3 linked regions of the Homo sapiens genome follow. The protein of the gene in region 2 interacts with the protein of the main gene of each other region in a pairwise test. Each region holds a gene or a part of one and is shown on either strand. Other genes may lie near its edges.

Region 1 (5,951 bases), on a different chromosome or scaffold from region 2:
CTCAGCCTCCCAAGTAGCTGAGACTACAGGCGCCCAGCTAATTTTTGTATTTTTAGGAGAGACAGTGTTTCACTATGTTGGCCAGTCTGGTCTTGAACTCCTAACCTCAGGTGATCCACCCGCCTCAGTCTCCCAAAGTGCTAGGATTGCAGGTGTGAGCCACCATGCCCAGCCTCATTTTTTTTATTTTTACTTTTTTTGAGATGGAGTTTCGCTATTGTTGCCCAGGCTGGAGTGCAGTGGCACTCAGCTCACTTCAACCTCCACCTCCCAGATTCAAGTAATTCTCCTGCCTCAGCTTCCCAAGAAGCTGGGACTACAGGCGTGTGCCACCATGTCCGGCTAATTTTTCCATTCTTAGTAGAAACAGAGTTTCAGCATGTTGGCCAGGCTGGTCTCAAACTACTGACCTCAAGTGATCACGCCTTGGCCTCCCAAAGTGTTGGGATTAGAGGTGTGAGCCACTGAGCCCAGCCTGTATTTACTCAATATTTAATAATAAAAGTCAGTTAACAAATGGAGCTCCCTAGGTAATTCTGAGATGGACTGGTATTTAGAAATCATGGCTGTAGTTTCTGCTTCCCTAACATCTGTTATATCTTTTCTCTATTTTCTGCCCCACTGCTGTTCAAATTCTTGCCTTCTTTATTCACCTGAACCATTGCAGGTAATCTCCTTGCATCTGTTCTCCATGCTGGCTGGTGCAATGCTGTAACATGCACCTGCCTGCTTAAAATCCCCCAATGACTTCGATTACCCACAGATAAAGTCCGATGGTCTGGCCCTGCCTGCCCTTCCAGCTTTTTCTTTTGCCATTCACTTCTCACACCTGAGCTGCCTTTGCTGAAGTTCCATCAAGACACTTGTCTCTCAGCCATCATTCATGTTGTTCTCTCTGCTTGGAATGCTTTTTCTCTTTCACCCCTTGTCTATCTGGTGGACACCCACTAATTCATCTTTCAGAACTGACCTGAAGGCTCTCCTCTGAACCCTTTCCTCATCCCTTCCTTCCTTTCCCTTGTCTCGTCTAGTGAGAGTACTCAGGGGGTTGTGTTTGTCGGCCTCCGGCAGATGAATCTGAAAGCAAGGACAGTGTCTTGGTTTTTTATCCTTAATGTCTAATAAAACATAAAATGTGGCAGATAGGAAGCATTGAGTTAACCATTGAATGAATGCATGGAGACTCTAGCCAAGGTCCCTCACCTCAGCCCCACCTCCCTATGCTCCTCAGGTCTTTCACAGAGACCATGAGCTCCCTGTCCCCTGGGAAGCCGTGGCAGACCAAGCTGAGCAGTGCGGGACTCATCTATCTGCACTTCGGGCACAAGCTGCTGGCCCAGTTGCTGGGCACTAGTGAAGAGGACAGCATGGTGGGCACCCTCTATGACAAGGTGGGGACCTGAGGACAGAGATGCCCCCCACATGCATTTCCAGCAGGCCGCCTGGGAGCAGTGCTCACACAGCACTCAGCACTGGGCCTCGGGTCAGGGTTCCTGGCCTATAGCAGGCCCAACACTCATCCTCTCCCTCAGTCAGGCTCATCTCACAAGGGAATGGTGATACCTCCCCTGTCTACATCCTGGGGTGGTTGTGAGAAGTGGATGCTGTAATATATGGGGAAGGGCTTTGAAAACCATAAAGCAGCATGGCCCCGTCTTTTTATTGACACACACAAACAGCAATTGCTCAGCACCTTTGGGTAAACAGAGGGGAGGCTGCTTATGTGTGGAAGCAGATGGCTCAGAGGTTCTGGCTGCCCTGAAGGTTGAGGGGAGTGTATGTTAGGCACCACTGTAGTTCACTAGTGGCACATAAATTGGGAAGCTCAGCTGAGAAGAGTTTTATTATGAAACTGTCTTTGGATTCCACCAGTGTCCCCTGCAAGCAGCTTCCTGCTCTTAGGGAAAGAATATGGCTAGTGGCCCTGGCATGCAAGTCAGGTCGCACAGTACTGAGGACACTTACTTGTTTACAAGTCAAAGCCCAGGTTCAGTCAGCTGTATTTCTTGCAGGTAGGCTGTTGAATTCAGTTCTCAGTTTTTTTGTTGTTTTTTGTTTTGAGATGGAGTCTTGCTCTGTCGCCCAGGCTGGAGTGCAGTGGCGCAATCTTGGCTCACTGCAAGCTCCGCCTCCCGGGTTCACGCCATTCTCCTGCCTCAGCCTCCCGAGTAGCTGGGACTACAGGCGCCCATCACCATGCCCGGCTAATTTTTTGTATTTTTAGTAGAGGTGGGGTTTCACCGTGTTAGCCAGGATGGTCTTGATCTCCTGACCTCGTGATCTGCCCACCTCAGCCTCCCAAAGTGCTGGGATTACAGGTCTGAGCCACTGCACCCGGCCCATCAGTTCTCAGTTTTAGCTTGCCCATTTTCTGCCCTCTGTAACTATAGAGTTTTTGGAATATCAAGATTTTAGACTGCCTGGGTCAGTTTTCCCTTCCACTGCTGAAGGGTTTCTAAACAACTGACTAAATTTTTGTTGTTGTTTTTTTTTGTTTTTTTGAGACGGGGTCTTGCTCTGTCATCCAGGCTGGAGTGCAGTGGCACAATCTCAGCTCACTGCTACCTCCGCCTCCTGGGTTCAAGCGATTCTCCTGCCTCAGCCTCCCAAGTAGGTGAGATTACAGGCGCCTGCCACCACGCCTGGCTAATTTTTTATTTTTAGTAGAAACGGGGTTTCACCGTGTTAGCCAGGCTGGTCTCAAACTCCTGACCTCAAGTAACGCACCCACCTTGGCCTCCCAAAGTGCTGGGATTACAGGCGTGAGCCACTAATCCCAGCAACAATTGACTAAATTTAACCCGTATTTTTTTTTGAGAGACTGTTGCCCAGGTTGGAGTCCAGTGGTGCCATCATGGCTTGCTGCTGCTTTGAACTCCTGGGCTCAAGCAGTCTTCCCACCTCAGCCCCCCAAGTAGCTGAGACTACAGGTGCATGCCACCATGCCTGGCTAATTATATATCTTAATTTTTTTGTAGAGAGGGTCTTGCTATGCTGCCCAGGCTGGACTCAAAAACTCCTGGGCTCAAGTGATCCTCCCACCTCAGCCTAAACCCATGTTTTTTTTTTTTTTTTTTTTTTTTTGAGACGGAGTCTCGCTCTGTCGCCCAGGCTGGAGTGCAGTGGCGGGATCTCGGCTCACTGCAAGCTGCGCCTCCCAGGTTCACGCCATTGTCCTGCCTCAGCCTCCCAAGTAGCTGGGACTACAGGCGCCCGCCACTACGCCCGGCTAATTTTTTGTATTTTTAGTAGAGACGGGGTTTCACCGTTTTAGCCGGGATGGTCTCGATCTCCTGACCTCGTGATCCGCCCGCCTCGGCCTCCCAAAGTGCTGGGATTACAGGCGTGAGCCACCGCGCCCGGCCTAAACCCATGTTTTAACTGAGCATCAGGTTGGGATCCAAACCAAGAAGAGCTGGGCATAGGAGTTACTTTCTCAGTGCTCTGAGAGTAGCACTTTTCTACATACCACAGGTGTACTGTTATGGAGGCCTATTTTGTAGGGTAATTTTGCATAAAGTTTCTGCCCCGAGACTCTTGAGGCATTATCCTACCATTTATTCAGACCCAGGAGACAACTGCTGATGTCATGAGGCACATTATGGGCTTCCCTGGAACCCTAACCCAGCAACCAGCTTTTGGTGTCTAGTCTCACACTCATTTTCTCCCACTTGACTTGTGTTCTCAACCAGAGCCGCTCCTGCACCTCATTAACCGTGTCACTGAATACCTACTCACCCCACCTGGAGATTTACCAGCCTTCAGCCACAGGGACCCACTCCCACAGAGAGCCTCTAGCACCTAGAGACCTTCCTTGTTCAAAAGTTAGCAGTCCCCTCCCTACACGTGTTGGCTTTGGTTTGGGCTTTGTGCAGCAGAATGAGCATGGATTAGAAATCAGGTGATCTGAATTCCAGTCACAGCACAACGAGCTGTCTGAGCTTCAGCGAGCTGCTGAACTTGCCAATTCTCCCTTTTCTCATCCAGTTAATGTTGAGAGATCCTCACAGGGCTGAAAGAGTGTGTATGAACATACTTTGAATCATGTAAGATTTCACATAAGTAGCAGGTAGCCTCAAGAAGGTTTCCCCTGCTGCTGCCTTAGATGTATGAGAACTTTGTGGAGGAGGTGGATGCTGTGGACAATGGGATCTCCCAGTGGGCAGAGGGGGAGCCTCGATATGCACTGACCACTACCCTGAGTGCACGAGTTGCTCGACTTAATCCTACCTGGAACCACCCCGACCAAGACACTGAGGTAAGGTGGCCTGGGAGGAGACCCGGAGACCTGTAAGAACCTTGGGTGGGGGGAAAATGGGAGCATTTGCTCCTCCTAAGCCCTAGCAAATTCCAAGTTTGGGCCAGCATCATGGTTCTAATTCTCATCATTCCCAGGCAGGGTTCAAGCGTGCAATGGATCTGGTTCAAGAGGAGTTTCTGCAGAGATTAGATTTCTACCAACACAGCTGGCTGCCAGCCCGGGCCTTGGTGGAAGAGGCCCTTGCCCAGCGATTCCAGGTATAGGCCTTGGAGGAGGCATTATGGCTTGAGGATTACTGACTGCCAATCAACAGGAACTCCTGCTTCTTCTACCCTAAACCCTGGAGTGCAGTGGCAGACAACCTCAACCTCTTAGGCTCAAGCAGTCCTCCCACCTCAGCCTCCTGAGTAGCTGGGACTACAGGCACACACCACCTCACCCAGCTAATTTTTGTATTTTTTGTAGAGACAGGGTCTTACTTTGTTGCCTAGGCTAGTCTCAAATTCCTGGGCTCAACTGATCCTCCCACCTCAGCCTCCCAAAATGTTGTGACTACAAACATGATCACCATGCCCAGCCTACCTTAAACCTTCTAGCTATGCTCTCCCTCTTTCAGGTGGACCCAAGTGGAGAGATTGTGGAACTGGCGAAAGGTGCATGTCCCTGGAAGGAGCATCTCTACCACCTGGAATCTGGGCTGTCCCCTCCAGTGGCCATCTTCTTTGTTATCTACACTGACCAGGCTGGACAGTGGCGAATACAGTGTGTGCCCAAGGAGCCCCACTCATTCCAAAGCCGGTGAGGCCCTAGGGAACCACTCTGCAGACCTTCAGGCTTGTCTCAGCCTTGTTAAGAGAAGGCTGCCAACTCTGACCCCTGCTGTACTCCCTCTTTCTGCCCAGGCTGCCCCTGCCAGAGCCATGGCGGGGTCTTCGGGACGAGGCCCTGGACCAGGTCAGTGGGATCCCTGGCTGCATCTTCGTCCATGCAAGCGGCTTCACTGGCGGTCACCACACCCGAGAGGGTGCCTTGAGCATGGCCCGTGCCACCTTGGCCCAGCGCTCATACCTCCCACAAATCTCCTAGTCTAATAAAACCTTCCATCTCATACTGACCCAGTCCTTGACTTATTCTTGCCCTACACCATTCCAGAAACTTGTGAAAAGTGAAACAACTATTTATGTGTAAGACCCTGTGCTAGATATATTTTCTTCACAGTAACTTCTCAGCCTTGCTTCCCAAATCATTTGAAACCATAGTTTCTAGGATTAAATAACGTGACCAAATTCACAAGTGGCTAAAAAGTGACAGAACAGGGCCTTAACCCAAAGTCCATGCTTTTTTCCCCTACTGTACCCCACTGCAACTCCCTGGAAAAGACAGACTGGTAACTGAGTGGAAAACAAAAGGAAAACTTATTTATTCTTAGAGGTGGGAATGTGGGGAGTGGGGCAGAACAGGTGGTGGCCCTGGGAGAGGGTCCCAAGGGGCAGAGGTTGGGGATGTCTCAGTAAAGAGGGGCAGGTCATGAATAGAGCCTCCACCCCCAGCAGGGGGTTCCTGGGCCCGCCCAAGCACTGGGCTAAAACGTGGAAACTGGGCATTGACAAAGTACAGCGGGATGTGGGCAATTCGGCCTGTGGACCAGCCCTGCAGAGAAGGGAAAGAAAAGGATCAGAGTCTGGGCCCA
Region 2 (9,031 bases):
GTATTGCTTTTCTCATATTTTTTGCAAATTGTATTGTCAACATGGGTCATTTAAAGTCCTGTATGAACCATAACCTGCTGTGGTACCTTTGTACATGTTTGATTCTGTATTCTTTATTCCAGTGTGGCATATGTGCCCCTCTGTATCTTTTGAGAAGTGCGGAATAGGTTGCTTCTACCACCTGTTCTTAATGTAACAGTAAAAGTTTTCACATTTTTCTCAGAACTGTTATCTGGAAGCTCTCTTTTTTCCTAAGGGTATTTTAATAACAAATACTGATGCATTTGTATTGAAAGTTGATATCTTGGAATGGAAGGACAGAAGAAAGCTCGCCTCTTGGAACTGTAGTTGGCTCTCCTCTCACTCTGACAGTGCTGCCCCTTTTAGTTTGTAAATCTGTACTTGGTGTGTTTAATTTGAAACCTATCGGCTGCTCTCTTGACTGGGGCACTTAATGTTTCATAAACTAATTTCCTTGGTGTGAAGGAAGTAGAACTTTTGAGCTACCCACTGCATGATTTTAAACTGATTTTAATAGCCTAAGTAATTACTCTTTTTTTTTTTTTTTTTTTGCTTAATGAAATTTTCCAAACATATTAAAAACAGAGGGAATACGCCAGCACATCCCAGTATCCACCAGTCAGCCTGACACCCACCACCACCTGCCAGAGCCCCAGGCAGGAGATAACTACAGGTGTCTGATTCTGGGTGGCTACCATGCTTTCAGGGCCATGAGCGTCTTCATGAGTGGAAGGCAGTTGTAGGGTTCTTGGAAAGGACTCAGACTGACCCCTTCAAGGGCCTGAGGTGAAATTCAGAAACTGCCCATGCAGAGAAGCTGAGCAGCGGGCATCATGGAGCGAGGCGTTGAGAGCTTGCATGTTTGTTGGGTATCAGAGAACAGGGAAGGCCTCTCCTCACCTGCTGCTCCTCCCTATGTGGCAGTGGCATGTCACAGTGTTCTTGATGTTCACACACCTGTGCCAGTCCATTAGCCTCACGGGTCAGAAGGCAGCACGGTAGTTCTTAGTGGAGGTGGGCATCACCAGGAATGCTTCAGTGTGAGCTCCCACACTACAGTCTGGAGGCTCACACCATCCTTGCACACATGGCCTTCCTGTCTTAGATATTCTGCCTTATTTTGGAATGCCATCTTTGCTTGTGGTTTTTCACTTCTGTTAAAGTAGAACATGGGGTTTGAATGGGCCTTTGGTGTAACTAGCTATGGCAAGAATCTTTTAAGAGATGTGCTCTTTGGAGATACAATGTCCTGAGCTTGTTTGCCTTTTCCAGAAGCCACAAAATGGCTTTGAAGATAAACAGGCCCATGCTACAGAGCCACCGGCACAAGGCACCTGGTGTGCAGGAGCTGAGGTGCAGCCTGTGGTTAATTGATAATAATCATGTCCCCACATCTGCACAGTGGGGGCTGTTTCTCTCATTTCACACCCCAGTATCCACCAGTCAGCCTGGTGCATGTGTGCGGGGAATATTTAAAGGGAATGTGACGTTCTGATTTGTCTGTAACATTTCAGTGTCACCTAGTTCAAGGCCAGGTTTACGGGTCCAAATTGTCCATAGTACAGAAGACCATTTATCAGGTGAAGCCCGTAAAGCCATAGGCACAGCTATAACCAAAAGAATTCATGAAAGGAGTAACAACTGAAGGTGAGTGGGTTTCCTCATGTTTGTAAATGCAGGTCACGTTGCAGGCTCTTCCGCCAGCTGTCCGTCCATGCAAGGCAGTTGGTCACCCCGCAGGCTCACTTCGGAGATGAAGAGTGCTGGGTGCAGCAGCGCCTCCTGTCCTTGGGTCTCTGTGTATTTGAGGTGGAATTGATGAGCTTGGGAACCAGGGAGAAGCGGTGGAGCTGCTGTTGCCTTGAGCTGCCCGTGTCAGGCAAGGTCTCCGCCTGGCTGTGACTTCTGCTTCCTGGAGACACATCTGTAGGCGTTCCTCACACAAACAAGGTTTTCTCCCTCTTGTGGATCACGGTGTGTGACTGACAGCTTTGGTAATTTTCCCAGCTGGCTTTGAAAGTGAAGCAGGCTGACCCGTCACCAAGAATTCTCTGCCATGGAGGGTCATGGAAGAACGGGAAGAGGTGCTGGCGGTCACAGCAGCCCAGGGTTCGTCTGTGCTCGTTTATAGATTTGTGTGCCCATCCAGTCCTCACTGGGCCCTCCCAGTTTTAGAAATGTTGAACACTAGTGCTTGTAAGATTCGAACAATGAGTTTACCAGCTCTGAGAAAAATGAACTGCTCCAGAACCTTCAAGAATGTTTCTCTGTATCACGCCCACATCACACCGAATCCATTTGTCGTCATTGCAGAGTTCATCTTTCTGGTTTTGAGCACCATCTCACACAGTTCTTTGTCTTTTTCCAGTCTGCTGTTGACTGGGTTAGCTCAGCCCGAAAGGTGCCCCCACCTTTGAGGCAGTTCCCGCACGTGATGTCCAGTACCGCGGTCTTCCCTCTTGCTGCTGCCTGTCAGTCATGGCAGAGGAAAGTGTCATCTGTCAGTCTCCTTTTCATGGACTCCTCATCTTGAGAATTGTAGTTGGGCTGGAAGGTTGCAGGGCTAAGTGGGGTGCAGGGAGGAGCCCCAGGCCCAGGGCTGGCTTGTCTTGGTTTACAAGAAGCTGTGCGGGGTCTCCTGGGGCGTCTGTGGGGGGTGTGGATGCAGAGGCTGAGCAACGGGCGCCATACGTAGTGAGGTGTGGATTTGCTTTAGGAAAATCTCTAGCATCGTCTCCCTATAGCAGCACTTGAAATAAACAAGAAGTTAGGTGGGCCAGGCCCAACAAGAGGGAGGCACGCAGCCTTCCAGAAGCAGAGGCCAGTGGGTGCTGGCTGTGACTGCCCTGTCCGCAAGGTCACCCTGTGTCCTTGAAAACCCAGGTGTTGACTGTCTATTGTCCCTACATAATTTTTCACCTTAGGCCTCAAAGATGCTTGGGTGCGGGGCAGCTCTCAGAATCCACCAGAAGCGTGGAGAGCCTCCATCTGGCCACTACCAGCACCCAGCTTTATAATGTCCCTGTGAGATGGCCCCTTCACCCACCCAGCCATCCCTGCATGGCCCGTTTCTTCAGCTCATCCAGCCTTCACTCAGGTGTCCAGGGGTGCCTCCTCAGCCCAACCTATTTGAAGTAACACCCCTTCCCTACCCCTTTCACTACTTTGATTTTTGTCTACCTGCCCCAGAACATCAGCTCCAGGAGGAAGGGGACTTTGGGTAACCAGATGGCAAATGTCTGCTGCAGCATGATCACAGATCTCGGTAGGAAATCACCATCACAGAGTGAATGGAAGCGAATCACCTCAAAGAGGGTGCTGTTGACAGCGATACGTTTAGCAACAGTTTCCAAACTTCCTGGCTATGGGCTAGGGCTGTTTGGGGCAATAAACCTCTCTCTGCCACCATCTTTTCACCTACCCTACGTCAGGATGGATGAAAGTATGACCTTGCTTTTCAGGGTGCCCGTGTCTTTCTGTTCAGAGGGCCCTGGGAGCAGGCCCTGCAGTGCAGTGGGTTGGGCTGTTGGAGACCTGAGGGCTAGGGGGAGGGAGGGGGTAAATGTGGGTCTGTTCTAAGTGCAAGGCCCTGCCTTAGACGTGTCTCCCTCGGCCCCTGGGTGGTGGCTGCTGCGTGGAGGATGGACTGAGGTGGGCCCTAGTGGAGGTGGGGGCAACGCCTGAGGAGCAGGCCCTGCCGCCTCCTGGGGAAAGGCTGCATGGTTGAGGCCTTCCCCTGCTGGCTTCATCCTTGGCATGGCAGCAGGAGCACACAGAGTGGGGGCCCCACCCCGTCACCCCTGCCCCCGAGCCCAGAACCTGGCCTGTGATGGGTCCTCAGGACACCTTTTGTCCAGGAACCCAGGGGCCAATGACAACCTTCACAGGCATCTGCTGAGAAGACATGGGCCAGCGCTGGATTTGTCCAGCTCTCCCAGGCTTGGTCCAAGGGCTCAGGAGTGGACCCATCCCTGCCCCGAAAGATCCATTTTAAAAATCAGTGACCCTGTACTTTTACTCTCTTTGCACTTGGTTAAGACTTTATCCCTGATTTTATTTGATCGGTAAGGCAGGGACTGCCATCATTCCCCATTTTATAGACAGAGGACAGACGGCCCCATGGCTCCGTGTCGTGTCCAAGGGATGGGCTGGCACCTCTTGGACCAGGCTTACCACCAGGGCCCTTCTCTGAAGCCCCAGTCTGACCGGCCTGCTGCTGGGAATCCCCCTCTGCCCCCACACTAACCTCTGCTGGGGCTGAGCCAGGGCGCGTCGGACAGTCAGGGCGACCCAGCCAGGGCGACCGTTGGCCCCGCTCCTATGGGGCAGCAGGGACCGACGTCAGCAGGGTGGGGCGGGCACCCGAGTGGTATGCCCCGCCCTGCCCCGCCTGCCCGCCCTGGTGGCCGTCTGGGGGCGACAAGTCCTGAGAGAACCAGACGGAAGCGCGCTGGGACTGACACGTGGACTTGGGCGGTGCTGCCCGGGTGGGTCAGCCTGGGCTGGGAGGCAGCCCCGGGACACAGCTGTGCCCACGCCGTCTGAGCACCCCAAGCCCGATGCAGCCACCCCCAGACGAGGCCCGCAGGGACATGGCCGGGGACACCCAGTGGTCCAGGTGTGGCGGGGGTGAGGGGAGGGGGGGTGGGAGCGGTGGAGATGGGGCCGTGGGGAGGGAGCTGAGATACTGCCACGTGGGACGATGCTAGGTGGGGAGGGCTGAGCTGGGCGGGCTCCTCTGGCTGTGGGGCCCCCTGTGTTCCTTGTGGGAGGTGGAAGGAAGTGAGTGCCCTGTCCTTCCTCCCTGCCATGAGATTCCAGGACCGGACCTGGCAAGTGCCCTATCCCAGCCAGTGTTCCTGGGGCTCTTCCAGGCAGGGCTATGTTCCCCAGGCCAGGGGCATTGTCCTGGACAGTCAGGAGGCATACCCCTCGCCAGGTGGAACCACCCTGTGTATGCATGACCCTGACAAGCAGGCGCCAGGACAGTCAGGAGGCCAGGTAGGGGGCACGGGCTGGAGCCTGCAGCTGGACGGGGTTGGGGGGGGTCCTGCCACCACGTGCCAGCTGTGTGCTGAGGACGAGCTCCCCGCTGGCTTCAGCTCTCGGAGCATTTGGTGGTGGGGAGAAGCAGGGCCTGGGCAGGTCGCCTGGCCACCAGCACTGCTGCCTGTAGGAGGCTCCCTGGGCAGGTGACGCCTCAGAAACCGGGCGAGATGGTGACCGCGGGCCATTGGTCAGCTGGGGAGGGCCTCTGCCAGGGAGCTCCTGAGAGCAGCCCCCACACTGCTGAACCCCTTGGCTCTGGGTCTTGGGCTGAGGCCTTAAGTGGCTGGACCCTGGGCCTAGACTCAGGCCCTGTGGGTTCCAGAGCAGTCTCCTGCCTGCACTGAGTCCCCAGGGTACCTACCCTGACCATGGCAAGGTAATGGCACCTTCTGGCCCCACCAGTTCCCAGCTGTATGAGGGCTGAGGACCCTAGAAGTGCTGGGAAGAGTTGTAGGAAGGCCCAAAGGGGCAGTGCCACCATCGGATGTTGGCACCCAGATGAAGGGAGCGCTGGCTGCATGGGAAAAGCTGGCAGCCCAGATCACAGCCCTGTCAGGCGCCAATTAGAGGGGAGGGCTGCCCTCAGCGGGCCCTGCCCCTTGCTCTCTTCCTCTTCCCCCACCCACGTTCATCCAGGCCTGCCGGGCAGGGCCAGCTCCCCAGGGATTCAGGGCCTCCTCACTGGCGGCTGGTTTGAGTGGCTCCGCCTTCACTACGTCCCTCCCAGGCTCGATGTTTAAAAAGGAGCCCTTGCCGCAGCCTTCACTACGTCCCTCCCAGGCTCGATGTTTAAAAAGGAGCCCTTGCCGCAGCCTTCACTACGTCCCTCCCAGGCTCGATGTTTAAAAAGGAGCCCTTGCCACAGCTCTTCAACTTCCTTTGCAGGCCCTTATTGGGTAGCGCCAAGGATTCTGGAGGGGCCTGTGGGTCAAGGCTGCCACACGCACGCCTTTTCCTAGCCCGCCCTCCTGCAGCCACATCACAAAGGCTGGGCCAGGCGAGAACAGAGCTGGAGGGCGGCACCCACACTCTCCGGTTTGCTGCTCGCCTGGCCCGGCCCCGCACAGTTCCCTTTTCTGAATGGAGGGGCCATGTGACCACCTGTTTGCTCAGCCGTGGATGCTGCTTCTGCACAGGGGCCGTTTGCTCTAGAAAGTTCACAGGAAGCAGGCTGCTGGGCTCAGGGAGTGCAGAGTGGTGGGAGGAAGCTGTTCAAGCTGCCCAAAGCTTTCCGGTTCTTGGCACACCCCCCGTCCCCCGCGCCCCCAGCAGGATGGAGGATTCCCAGCCTGGGGTCCTAGTCAGGCCTCAGGTAGCCGACTGTCTGGGCCATCCTCTCCAGCCTGACATCCTTGTCTCCCCGGCAGCTGTGGAGGGTGCCCCTGTGCCCACCTGGCCAGCACCACCTGCCCAGCTCAGAGAAGGGGCTGTGGCTGCCGCCTGCCACGTAGGGCAGATTGCTTGCCTGGAAGGGCTGTTCTTGACTTCCTCCTTCCAAGGAGGCCCTGGAGTGGCTCTGTGTTCTCAGTCCTGTGCTGGCCTCAATGGGGGTGAGGATCAGTGCAACTGAGCTTTCTGCTGTTTCTAGCTAGCGGCCAGGCAGTGCGGGGCAGGTGCCACCTGGACACAGGTCCCCCACCTCCCCCCCTTTCTTTTTCAAGACAGAGTCTCTCTCTGTTGCCCAGGCTAGAGTGCAGTGGTGCAATCTCGGCTCACTGCAACCTCGACCTCCTGGGCTCAAGCGATCCTCCTACTTCAGCCTCCCAGCTGGGACCACAGGTGCACACCACCACACTCAGCTAATTGTTGTTTTTTTTTCTTTTTTTTTTTGAGATGGAGTCTCGCTAGGTGGAGTCTCACTCTGTCGCCCAGGCTGGAGTTCAGTAGTTTGATCTCGGTTCACTGCAACCTCTGCCTCCCAGGTTCAAGCGATTCTCCTGCCTCAGCCTCCCAAGTAGCTGGGATTACAGGCACCCGCCACTACGCCTGGCTAATTTTTACATTTTTAGTAGAGATGGGGTTTCACCATGTGGGCGAGGCTGGTCTCGAACTCCTGACCTTGTGATCCTCCCGCCTCAGCCTCCCCAAGTGCTGGGATTACAGGCGTGAGCCACCATGCCCGGCCCTGGCTAATTTTTAAAGTTTTTTTTTGTTTTGTTTTGTTTTTTTTTGTAGAGCTGAGGATGTCCCCATGTTTCCCAGGCTGCTCTTGAACTCTTGGGCTCAAGTGATCTGCCCACCTCGGCCTCCTAAAGTGCTAGGATTACAGGCATAAGCCACCGTACCTGGCTCTAAAGCTCCTTTTTAAAGGCACCTTTGGACTGTGTGGCTTTTAGTGGAAAGTTAAGGGTGGGGGCCCCCATGTCCCTTCTGCAAGCCTCGTGTGTTAAGTCAATGAAAACTGTTTACAGAGAGCCTGGGGCTAGGTAAACAACAGGGCTGCGGGTATCAACCACGCCAGGACAGGGCGTGGAGGCCAGGGCTGTACTGGGTTAGGCAGCCTGGCAGTGAGGACTGTGTCCTTCTGTGGTAACCCAGGGAGCAGCCAGATATGGGGCAAGCCAGTTGTCCCCAGAGTGGAACCTGGCTGCAAATGACGCTGGCGAAACCACACTCACTGCCAAGTTCCAGGACAGACAGCACTTCCTCCCACACAACTTTCTCCAAACTCCAGGGGTTAATGGTTGGCCCTGCCGTGGGGAGGGGCTGGAGCCAGGATAGCCTCTGGCAGAGCAGGAGGTGTCAGAGGACGCAGCTCTGGGCTGCTGGAGTGACCTGTTCTTGCCTCTGAGATCTCGCCCGGCCTCCCTCACCAGGATTGGGAGTGTGAGCTGGCCGGCCTGGCTCTGTGACCTCGGGCATGGTCAGTGCCCGACTTGGTGGTCTTTTCTCCCGTGGGAAGCGTCTAGGCGCAGACTTGCAGAGAGTGCCGAGAAGGCCGTATACCTGCCCCTCTGTCCACAGCACACCGTCATCCACTCACTCATCTGGGGCAGGTTCTTGGGAGCACACACCCGGGGTGCAGCCAGCTCCCCGCAGGGGCAGACAGGACCTTTTGGGAAGGGTGGGGTGAGACTCTCCAGTGTCCGACTCCTCTGCCACCCATCTCCTGGTCACCCTCTCCCCTGTTCTCTTTGAGGGGAACAAGCAGGGCCCGGCCCAGGCACCTTTTGTGGGGATGAGTCGTTGCTGTGACCTGCCCGAGTGCTGGCCACTCAGTTGCTCCCAGGAGCCACTGTGCCTCATTTCTGGCTGCCTGTGTTCTCCCAGGGGTCAGCAGATAGGTGCGATTAGGTGTTTGAATGCTTGCCAAGTTGCCCTCCATCAAAGCTGTCCCCATTCACAGTCCATGTCCCCCAGCCCTGAGGGAGGTCTCTGAGTGATGAACTCGAAGCAGCAGGGCCGTGGGGCCTCCCCAGGGCCTGACCATCTCCTGTCCCACAGGCCCGAGTGCCAGGCATGGACGGGGACGCTGCTGCTGGGCACATGCCTTCTGTACTGCGCCCGCTCCAGCATGCCCATCTGCACCGTCTCCATGAGCCAGGACTTCGGCTGGAACAAGAAGGAGGCCGGCATCGTGCTCAGCAGCTTCTTCTGGGGCTACTGCCTGACACAGGTTGTGGGCGGCCACCTCGGGGATCGGTAACTGCCCATCTTCCCCATCTCCTGGCTGGTGGGGGCCGCCCCACTGGGGCCTCCAGGGGCGAGTGGGCTGGCTGTGCTGCTGCACGCAGAGGATGCGACTCCTGGGGAAGGAGCTTGGTGGACACAGAGGATGCGACTCCTGGGGAAGGAGCTTCGTGGACACAGAGGATGCGACTCCTGGGGAAGGAGCTTGGTGGATAAATCTGGGCAGAAGACCCCCCCAGAGGAAGATGGGAGCTGGGAGGGGAGAGGCCAGGCTTGGCAAGGCCCCAGGGCCCTGCAGGCAGAGGAGGCAGGCCGCTCCCCTGGAGTACCT
Region 3 (7,831 bases), on a different chromosome or scaffold from region 2:
CTAGGAATAACTACCACAAAATGGGGATCCTAGATTTTGGGGGTGACCACTAAAAAGTAACAAGCTTAAAAAAAAAGGCTGGGCACAGCAGCTCATGCCTGTAACCCCAACACTTCAGGAGGTCAAGGCAGGCGGATCATCTGAGGTCAGGAGTTCGAGGCCAGTCTGGCCAACATGGTGAAACCCTGTCTCTGCTAAAACATACAAAACTAGCCAGGCATGGTGGCGTGTGTCTGTAATCCCAGCTACTCAGGAGGCTGAGGCAGGAGAATCACTTGAACCCGGGAGGTGGAAGTTGCAGTGAACCAAGATCGCGCCACTGCACTCCAGCCTGGGTGACAGAGTGAGACTCCATCTCAAAAAAAAAAAAAAAAAAAAAAGACTGAATAGAAAAGAAAGAAGGCCAGTATTTTTTCTTCTTTCAGTGCATAGAAGCTCCAGCCCCACCCCTCAATCCTTGGTTCTTCCCAGTTCCAAAGCATAGAAGCTGGAGGCCAGTCAGTCTTCTGCTGCTCCTGTAAGCTTTTAGGGCTTCAGAATAATTTTTCTTTTTGAGACGGAGTCTCGCTCTGTCGCCCAGGCTAGAGTGCAATGACGCGATCTCAGCTCACTGCAACCTCCGCCTCCAGGGTTCAAGCAATTCTCCTGCCTCAGCCTCTCAATTAGCTGGGATGACAAGTGCTCACCACCACGCCCAGCTAATTTTTGTATTTTTAGTAGAGACGGGGTTTCTACTATGTTGGCCAGGCTGGTCTTGAACTCTTGACCTCAGATGATCCACCTGCCTCGGCCTCCCAAAGTGCTGGGATTACAGGCGTGAGCTACTGTGCCTGGCCAGAATAAGCTATCTTCTTAACACAGTGGTTACTTAGGTCTCTGTTTGGTCTTTTAGTCCTATTTTTTTCTGTCCCACGAATCTAGTGCGATATATTCCTCTTGGATTTGGTCACTATTTACACATAGATGGCAGGAGAACTCTATTTTTCTGGATCCTAATAGGCAAGGTCTGTGCTACCTGAGCTGACATGAAGAAGACAAGGTGGGGAGGTGACCAGGTTGTTTGCTCAGCTGTATAAGCCATGTTAGAATTGAATATACACTACAGATGACTTATAATGTACGTGCTCAAGAGTTGAGGGGGCTGAATTTACATATTTATCCTTTCGTTTTTTCAACATATCATCTCTCTCCCTCTCACTAGCACAAATGTTTGCTTAATAGATCGAAGCTAAGTTAAAAACTTTCACCATAAGTTTCCTAACCAGAAATAGTCAAGACAGTCTGTGGTAGGTCTCCCTCCCAACTGCAAATGGAGAAACTGCGGCAAAAGAATAAAATGTTAGAATTTCCTGCTTCAATATCTCTTGGTTTAGTAGTCACTGTATTCCTGATAAGAAAGAAACTTACTGCTTTCCCCTCTGGGGAATCGAATGTCAGAAATCTGAGGTCAGAATCTGTCTCCAAGGGCCGCTCCAGATCATAAGGTTCTCCATTCACTTGAGCAGCCACTGCAGTATCTGCCAGTGTTGAACTTCAGCAGTGGAAGGTGGGGATGAAGAAAAAGACAGGGTTACAAGGCACAAAAAGGAAAATATCACATGTTCTGATTCCTATATGAGAGTTTAAAAAGTTGATCTCACAGTGGTAGAGAATAGAGTGATAGTTACCAGAGGCTGGAAAGGATGGGGGAGGGGAGATGAAGAGGTTGGCTAATGGGTACAAAAATAGAGTTAGACAGAAGGAATATGCTCTAATGTTCCATAGCAGAGTTGGGTGAATACAGTTAATAATAATTTATTGTATATTTCAAAATAGCTAGAAGATTTGAAATAGTCCCAACACAAAGAAATGATAAATGTTTGGGGTAACAGATATCCTGAACACCCTGATTTGATCATTACATATTGTATGCATATATCAAAATATCACATATACCCATTCATATGTTCAATTATTATGTATCAATTATTAAAAAGTAAATTAATGATTTAAAACAGACAGGGTTACAATCCACAGTGGGGAGAAAGTTGCTCATCTCTCAGCAACTGTAAACTTGCAAAGGTGAAATGAGTTACCAGAGCAACAGAAGCTTTCATTTCTTTCCCCAATGAAAGGACAGAGACTCTGATGCAGAAACTAATACAGATAAAACAAATCTCAGGCCGGGTTTGGTGGCTCATGCCTGTAATCCCAGCACTTCGGGAGGCTGAGATGGAAGGATCGCTTGAGCCCAGGAGTTCAAGACTAGCCTGGGCAACATGGAGAGACCCCGTCTGTATAAAAGAACAACAACAAAAAACAAAAACAAAATCTTCAGGAAAGGCTATCTTAATGGGGACGGAACAGAAACAAGCAGACCAAGTTTTCTTCCCCTGCTCAAGTGAAGAGAAAGTAAAGGGGCAGAAGGATAATCCTGGTAGTTACAGGATGGGCCTGTTACCTGATCTGCCGGGCTAGTTGGTAGGGGGTTGTGTTCCATGCCACAGCATCAATTTTCTGGCCTCCAGGAAGTGATATCTTAATAGTCCGGGGTTCCTTCTGTGCCATGCTTGCTAATCTCTTTACCTGAGCAGCCCACAGCTCCTCAAAAAGGCCAAGCCGCTCTGCCAACCAGCGTGGAGGGGTCGACACAACTGCCTGGAGGGAAAGATATATTAGCAGGTAACACACGTCCCATCATTCTTTCTTAGAATTGCAGATGATGGCACTTTGGGATGGTTAAGTGGACTTCGTCCGAATTCCTACTTTTTAAGGGGATTGGGTGATACAAGACCCTAGGCTGGGGGTCCTTCGAGCTCAGAGTCCCCCAGACCGCTAACTCGAGAATTAGATAACGAGTTTAGATACGAGTCCTTTTCTGGGGACTCGGAGGACCAGGGAGAGGAGGAGTGGCGTGAGGCTGGGTTAACATAAAAATTTGGGGGCTTCGGCTGGGCTAAGTCTGATGCGGATCGGAGCTTTGGGGGTGCCTCACGCACCGTGTGTAGCCTGCAAGCCTGTAAACCTTGGAGCCGGAGACACCGCCACCTCTGATACAGGGCCATGTTCCTTCACACCAGTGCCTACATCCTCAAACAGATTATCGCCGCTTCTCCTCCACGTAATTCTTCATTGGCTTCTGGTCCAACAAAGTCCGTGTCTATTGGTTACTACAGCTGCCACTCTAGTCTGGCACCACCTCCAGGAACTCCGAAGAGGTACACCCTACACAGCACCAGCAGCGGTGTGAGTGGTTCCGGCTGACCGGAAGACCGAAAATGTAACACACCCTCGCTATTCCCCCAGACCCGTGGCGTTTCAGCTGAAACCCAAAAATAGCAATTAGGCGTCCTGTGGCTTTGAGGACAAGGGCAGGTGAACTTTTGAGGGCGAGAGTGGGAGAAAACCAGACAGGAAATGGTAGTAATTTCCCTTTAACTATACATTTTATTTTACGTGGTCCTTACAGCAAGTAGCAAAACTTAAGAGCATAGACTGGGGAACCAGACAGACCTAGTGTAAATTCTGGATCTGCCATTAACTATGTAATTTTGGGAAAATTATTAAACTTCTCATATTTATTTAATAGAGACCGGGGGGGGCGGGAGGGGGGGGCGGGTCTCACTATGTTGGCCAGGGTAGTCTCGAACTCCTGGCCTCAAGCAATCCCTCCCCTCCCCCCCACCAAACCGCCACCGCGCTCCGGCCTCCCAGAGTTCTGGAATTACAGGCATGAGCCGCCTTGCCTGACCTATTTAATTTCTCTAAGCCTCAATTTTCTCAACTATAAAATGAGAATAGTGTTGCTCCCAATTGTTGAGTTAAATTTTATGTAAATCGTCTAGTGTGGCCCATGGTTTTTTGGTAATGGGCAAAAGCAACAAGAAGCTATTATGATAAATGACTGTAACAGTTTTATTTTTTAATTTTGAGACAAGGTCTCACCGTTGCCCAGGCTGGAGTGCAGGGGTACAATCATGGCTCACTGCAGTCTCGACCTCCTGGGCTCAACTGACCACCTCAGCCTCTGGAGTAACCACTTTAAAGCTGGAGCAAAGATGGCCGCGCGCAGTGGCTCACGCTGTAATCCCAGCACTTTGGGAGGCCGAGGCAGGTGGATCACCTGAGGTCAGGAGTTCTAGACCAGCCTGGCCAACATGGTGAAACCCCGTCTCTACTAAAAATACAAAAATTAGCTGGGCGTGGTGGTGGGCGCCTGTAATCCCAGCTACTTGGGAGGCCGAGGCGGGTGGATCACCTGAGGTCAGGAGTTCTAGACCAGCCTGGCCAACATGGTGAAACCCCGTCTCTACTAAAAATACAAAAATTAGCTGGGCATGGTGGTGGGCGCCTGTAATCCCAGCTACTTGGGAGGCTGAGACAGGAGAATCGCTTGAACCCGGGAGGTGGAGGTTGCAGTGAGCCGAGATCACGCCATGCACTCCAGCCTGGGGGACAAGAGCGAGACTTCATCTCAAAACAAAACAAAAACAAAAAAGCTGGAATCAAGAATCTGCAGAGGTCAGTTTGAGTCCCTTTATACTCATGGTGCTTAATAGGGACTTTATAGACCTTTTAATCTTTTTTTTTTTTTTTTGAGATGGAGTTTCACTCTTGTTGCCCAGGCTGGAGTGCAGTGGCGTGATCTCGGCTTACCGCAACCTCCGCCTCCCCAGGTTCAAGCGCTTCTCCTGCCTCAGCCTCCCGAGTAGCTGGGATTACAGGCATGTGCCACCCCAGGCCCAGCTAATTTTGTATTTTTAGTAGAGACAGGGTTTCTCCATGTTGGTCAGGCTGGTCCCGAACTCCCAGCATCAGGTGATCCGCCTGCCTCAGCCTCCCAAAGTGCTGGGATTACAGGCGTGAGCCACCATGCCCGGCCGAGACCTTTTAATCTGACAGATGAGGAATTTAAGGTCAAACAGCAAGTGCTGATGGTGATTTCTGAATCCAAGCTTGGTTTTCTTTTACCACACCATGCTTTCTCTAGAAGAGTTTGCTCCCAGTATACTCCCCCATCACCTCAGAAAGAGGTGCCTGACTAGAATTTTAGCTCTCTGCTCCCTACATAAGCCCTTTGCCTCTAATTCCTATCCCAGCTCTCAACTTCCTTTATCCTTTCTCTTCCCTCTCCCTGATACATCTAGGACACAGGACTAGGTAAATTTCATCAAATTTACTCAGTAAATATGGGAACATGGTCAGATTTGTAGTAAAGTATGAAGGGAAACTGACTTGGGGGTAGCCATCAGGCTGTCAGTAATTCTCATTAGTCCCCTCACCTGGAGGTGGGGATGGTTAGAGTTGGTTCTGAAGTTTCAATGGTGATAGAATCAAGGGTTGTAGAGGAAGAGGTGTCAGAAAAAGCAGTTTAATCAAGGTTTCCGGAGAGACCAGGTTTCCCGGGCAGGGCAGTTGATCTGAGTCACAGGAGCCTCCATGGATCTTGGGTCCATCTTCTGGTAGACACCCTGAAATACAAAGAGAAAGAGACAAGAGTGTGGGAGAGGAAGATAACTTGTGTGTGTGTGGTTTGGAGAAGGTAGTTAAGAATTTTTAAATGGCATTCAGAAAGGGTGGCAACAGGCAGAATTCTTCTCATGCCTCTGCACCAAAAGGGGAAAGGTGTATTGCAGGCAACAAAATGGTAGGTGCCCAATAATTATTGAATCAAGTATGTACCAATCACGGTATTGATTTGATGCTCTCATTTACTAACTGCTTACTGTGTGCAATGCAGTGAGCTGGGTGCTGAGGGGATGCCGATCAATCAACTACCACATCATCACCTATGTAACTTGTGTTGCAGTGGAGGAAGGAAGGAATGTTGAGTTATTCCATCCGCCCTCTGTAAGAAGCAAGCAAGCAAGTAAGCAAGTGCAAGAGCAAGCTAAGGCCAATTCATGAGTTACTGGTTCTTCTACAACTTCGGACTTGTGACTAGCATATGCCTCAGTATTGGGGAATTTTAATCCATTAGTCAGCCTAGGAAACATCTATTCTTTTTTTTTTTTTTTTTTTTTTTTTTGAGGTGAAGTCTTGCTCTGTTGCCCGGCTGGAGTGCAGTGGCATGATCTTGGCTCACTGCAACCTCCGCCTCCTGGGTTCAAGTGATCCTCCTGCCTCAGCTTCCCCAGTAGCTGGGATTACAGGTGTACGCCACCACACCCAGCTAATTTTTTTTGAGTCAGAGTCTTGCTCTGTCGCCGAGGCTGGAGTGCAGTGGCGCTATCTTGGCTCACTGCAACCTCTGCCTCCCGGGTTCAAGTGATTCTTCTGCCTCAGCCTCCTGAGTAGCTGGGATTACAGGTGCGCGCCACCACGCTCGGCTAATTTTTGTATTTTTAGTAGAGACAGGGTTTCACCATGTCAGGCTGGTCTCGAACTCCTGACCTCGTGATCCGACCACCTTGGCCTCCCAAAGTGCTGAGATTACAGGCGTGAGCCACTGTGCCCGGCCTGTTTTTTGTTTTTTGAGATGGAGTTTCACTCTTGTTGCTCAGGCTGGAGTGCAATGGCACGATCTTGGCTCACTGCAACCTCCGACTCCCAGATTCAATCGATTCTCCTGCCTCAGCCTCCCGAGTAGCTGGGATTACAGGTGCCCGCCACCACACCTGGCTATTTTTTTGTATTTTTAGTAGAGATGGGGTTTCACAATGTTGGCCAGGCTGGTCTTGAACTCCTGACCTCAGGTGATCCACCTGCCTTGGCCTCCCAAAGTGCTGCGTTTACAGGCGTGAGCCACCATGCCTGGCTTGAAACATCTATTCTTAAAACTTGGGCTGTTGCCCCTCCACCCTAGACTACTACTGAACACCCGGTGCTATGCCTTCACTATTTCACCTAATTCCTAAAACAACTATGTCAAGTATACTCCCTTTAAAACAGGAAAATGATTCTCAAAGAAGTAAAGCCCCCAGTCTATCTGAATGCAAAGCCCTTGTTGTTTATGCTATGCCATACTGCCTCTCAGGGACCAGATTGGTCATAATGTGTCAGGTTATAAGATTCTGATACTTGTGGCCAAATAGGCCTTTGATATAGGGTAAAAGAGGTGGGTCCAATAGAAAGCCAAGAAAAGAGGCGTCTTCCGACTTTTCTCTACCAGATTAAGGTTAAGGAAAAAAGTGTGCACAAAATAAAGCTAGATTTCCACAGAAGTGCAGGAAAAAGGGAATCCACAGTGAAGGGTGTCCTAGGCCCTTAGTAAAATTTTAGGAAATTCTCAGCTTAACTCCACTTTTGGAATAGAAATTCCAAGGTGACTAGAGTCCTAGTTCAGAAGGTATTGTTTTTATAGCTTTAAACTACATGTAACTTTAAACTACATGTAAATATTTTCCACTTGTCCTCAGGATCAGCACATACCTCCAAATCTATCTTACTTCTTAGAAGCACTAAAGATGTAGAAAGTATATTTGGCTGGGTGTGGTGGCTCACGCCTGTAATCCCAACACTGGAGGCTGAGGCAGGCGGATTGCTTGAGTCCAGGAGTTCGACAACAGCCTGGACAACATAGTGAGACCCCCATCTCTACAAAAAATAAAAAATTAGCTGGGCATGGTGGTATGTGCCTTGGGAGGCTAAGGTGGGAAGATTGCTTGAGCCCAGGAGATCCAGTGCAGTGAGGCGTGATTGCACCACTGTACTGCAACCTGGGCAACAGAATGATACCCTGTCTCAAAAAAAAAAAAAAAAAAAAAAAAAAAAGAGAAGGCAGAGGCCGGGCACAGTGGCTCATGCCTGTAATCCCAGCACTTTGGGAGGCCGAGGCGGGTGGATCACGAGGTCAGGAGATCGAGACCACCCTGGCTAACATGGTGAAACCCCGTCTCTACTAAAAATACAA

The links. Proteins that work in one complex are often made in the same cells at the same time.
Region 1: the proteins of SLC17A9 (region 2) and MYG1 interact in binary tests that used the Homo sapiens proteins (3 or more experiments, as listed by UniProt).
Region 3: the proteins of SLC17A9 (region 2) and TARS2 interact in binary tests that used the Homo sapiens proteins (3 or more experiments, as listed by UniProt).

What each region holds. Positions count from the first base shown.
Region 1 is NC_000012.12:53,301,803-53,307,753, forward strand, and holds the end of MYG1 (MYG1 exonuclease precursor), read left to right. Parts: intron 1-1,231; coding exon 1,232-1,391; intron 1,392-4,105; coding exon 4,106-4,258; intron 4,259-4,395; coding exon 4,396-4,518; intron 4,519-4,877; coding exon 4,878-5,059; intron 5,060-5,163; coding exon 5,164-5,347; 3' UTR 5,348-5,375; downstream 5,376-5,951. Other genes in the region: AAAS (aladin), read right to left, coding at 5,687-5,911. UniProt on the Homo sapiens protein: 3'-5' RNA exonuclease which cleaves in situ on specific transcripts in both nucleus and mitochondrion. Involved in regulating spatially segregated organellar RNA processing, acts as a coordinator of nucleo-mitochondrial crosstalk.
Region 2 is NC_000020.11:62,948,251-62,957,281, forward strand, and holds the start of SLC17A9 (voltage-gated purine nucleotide uniporter SLC17A9), read left to right. Parts: upstream 1-4,458; 5' UTR 4,459-4,580; coding exon 4,581-4,639; intron 4,640-4,960; exon of another isoform or gene 4,961-4,981; coding exon of another isoform or gene 4,982-5,022; intron 5,023-8,514; coding exon 8,515-8,712; intron 8,713-9,031. UniProt on the Homo sapiens protein: Voltage-gated ATP nucleotide uniporter that can also transport the purine nucleotides ADP and GTP. Uses the membrane potential as the driving force to control ATP accumulation in lysosomes and secretory vesicles.
Region 3 is NC_000001.11:150,482,664-150,490,494, reverse strand, and holds the start of TARS2 (threonine--tRNA ligase, mitochondrial), read right to left. Parts: upstream 3,077-7,831; 5' UTR 3,045-3,076; coding exon 2,979-3,044; intron 2,638-2,978; coding exon 2,441-2,637; intron 1,532-2,440; coding exon 1,408-1,531; intron 1-1,407. UniProt on the Homo sapiens protein: Catalyzes the attachment of threonine to tRNA(Thr) in a two-step reaction: threonine is first activated by ATP to form Thr-AMP and then transferred to the acceptor end of tRNA(Thr). Also edits incorrectly charged tRNA(Thr) via its editing domain.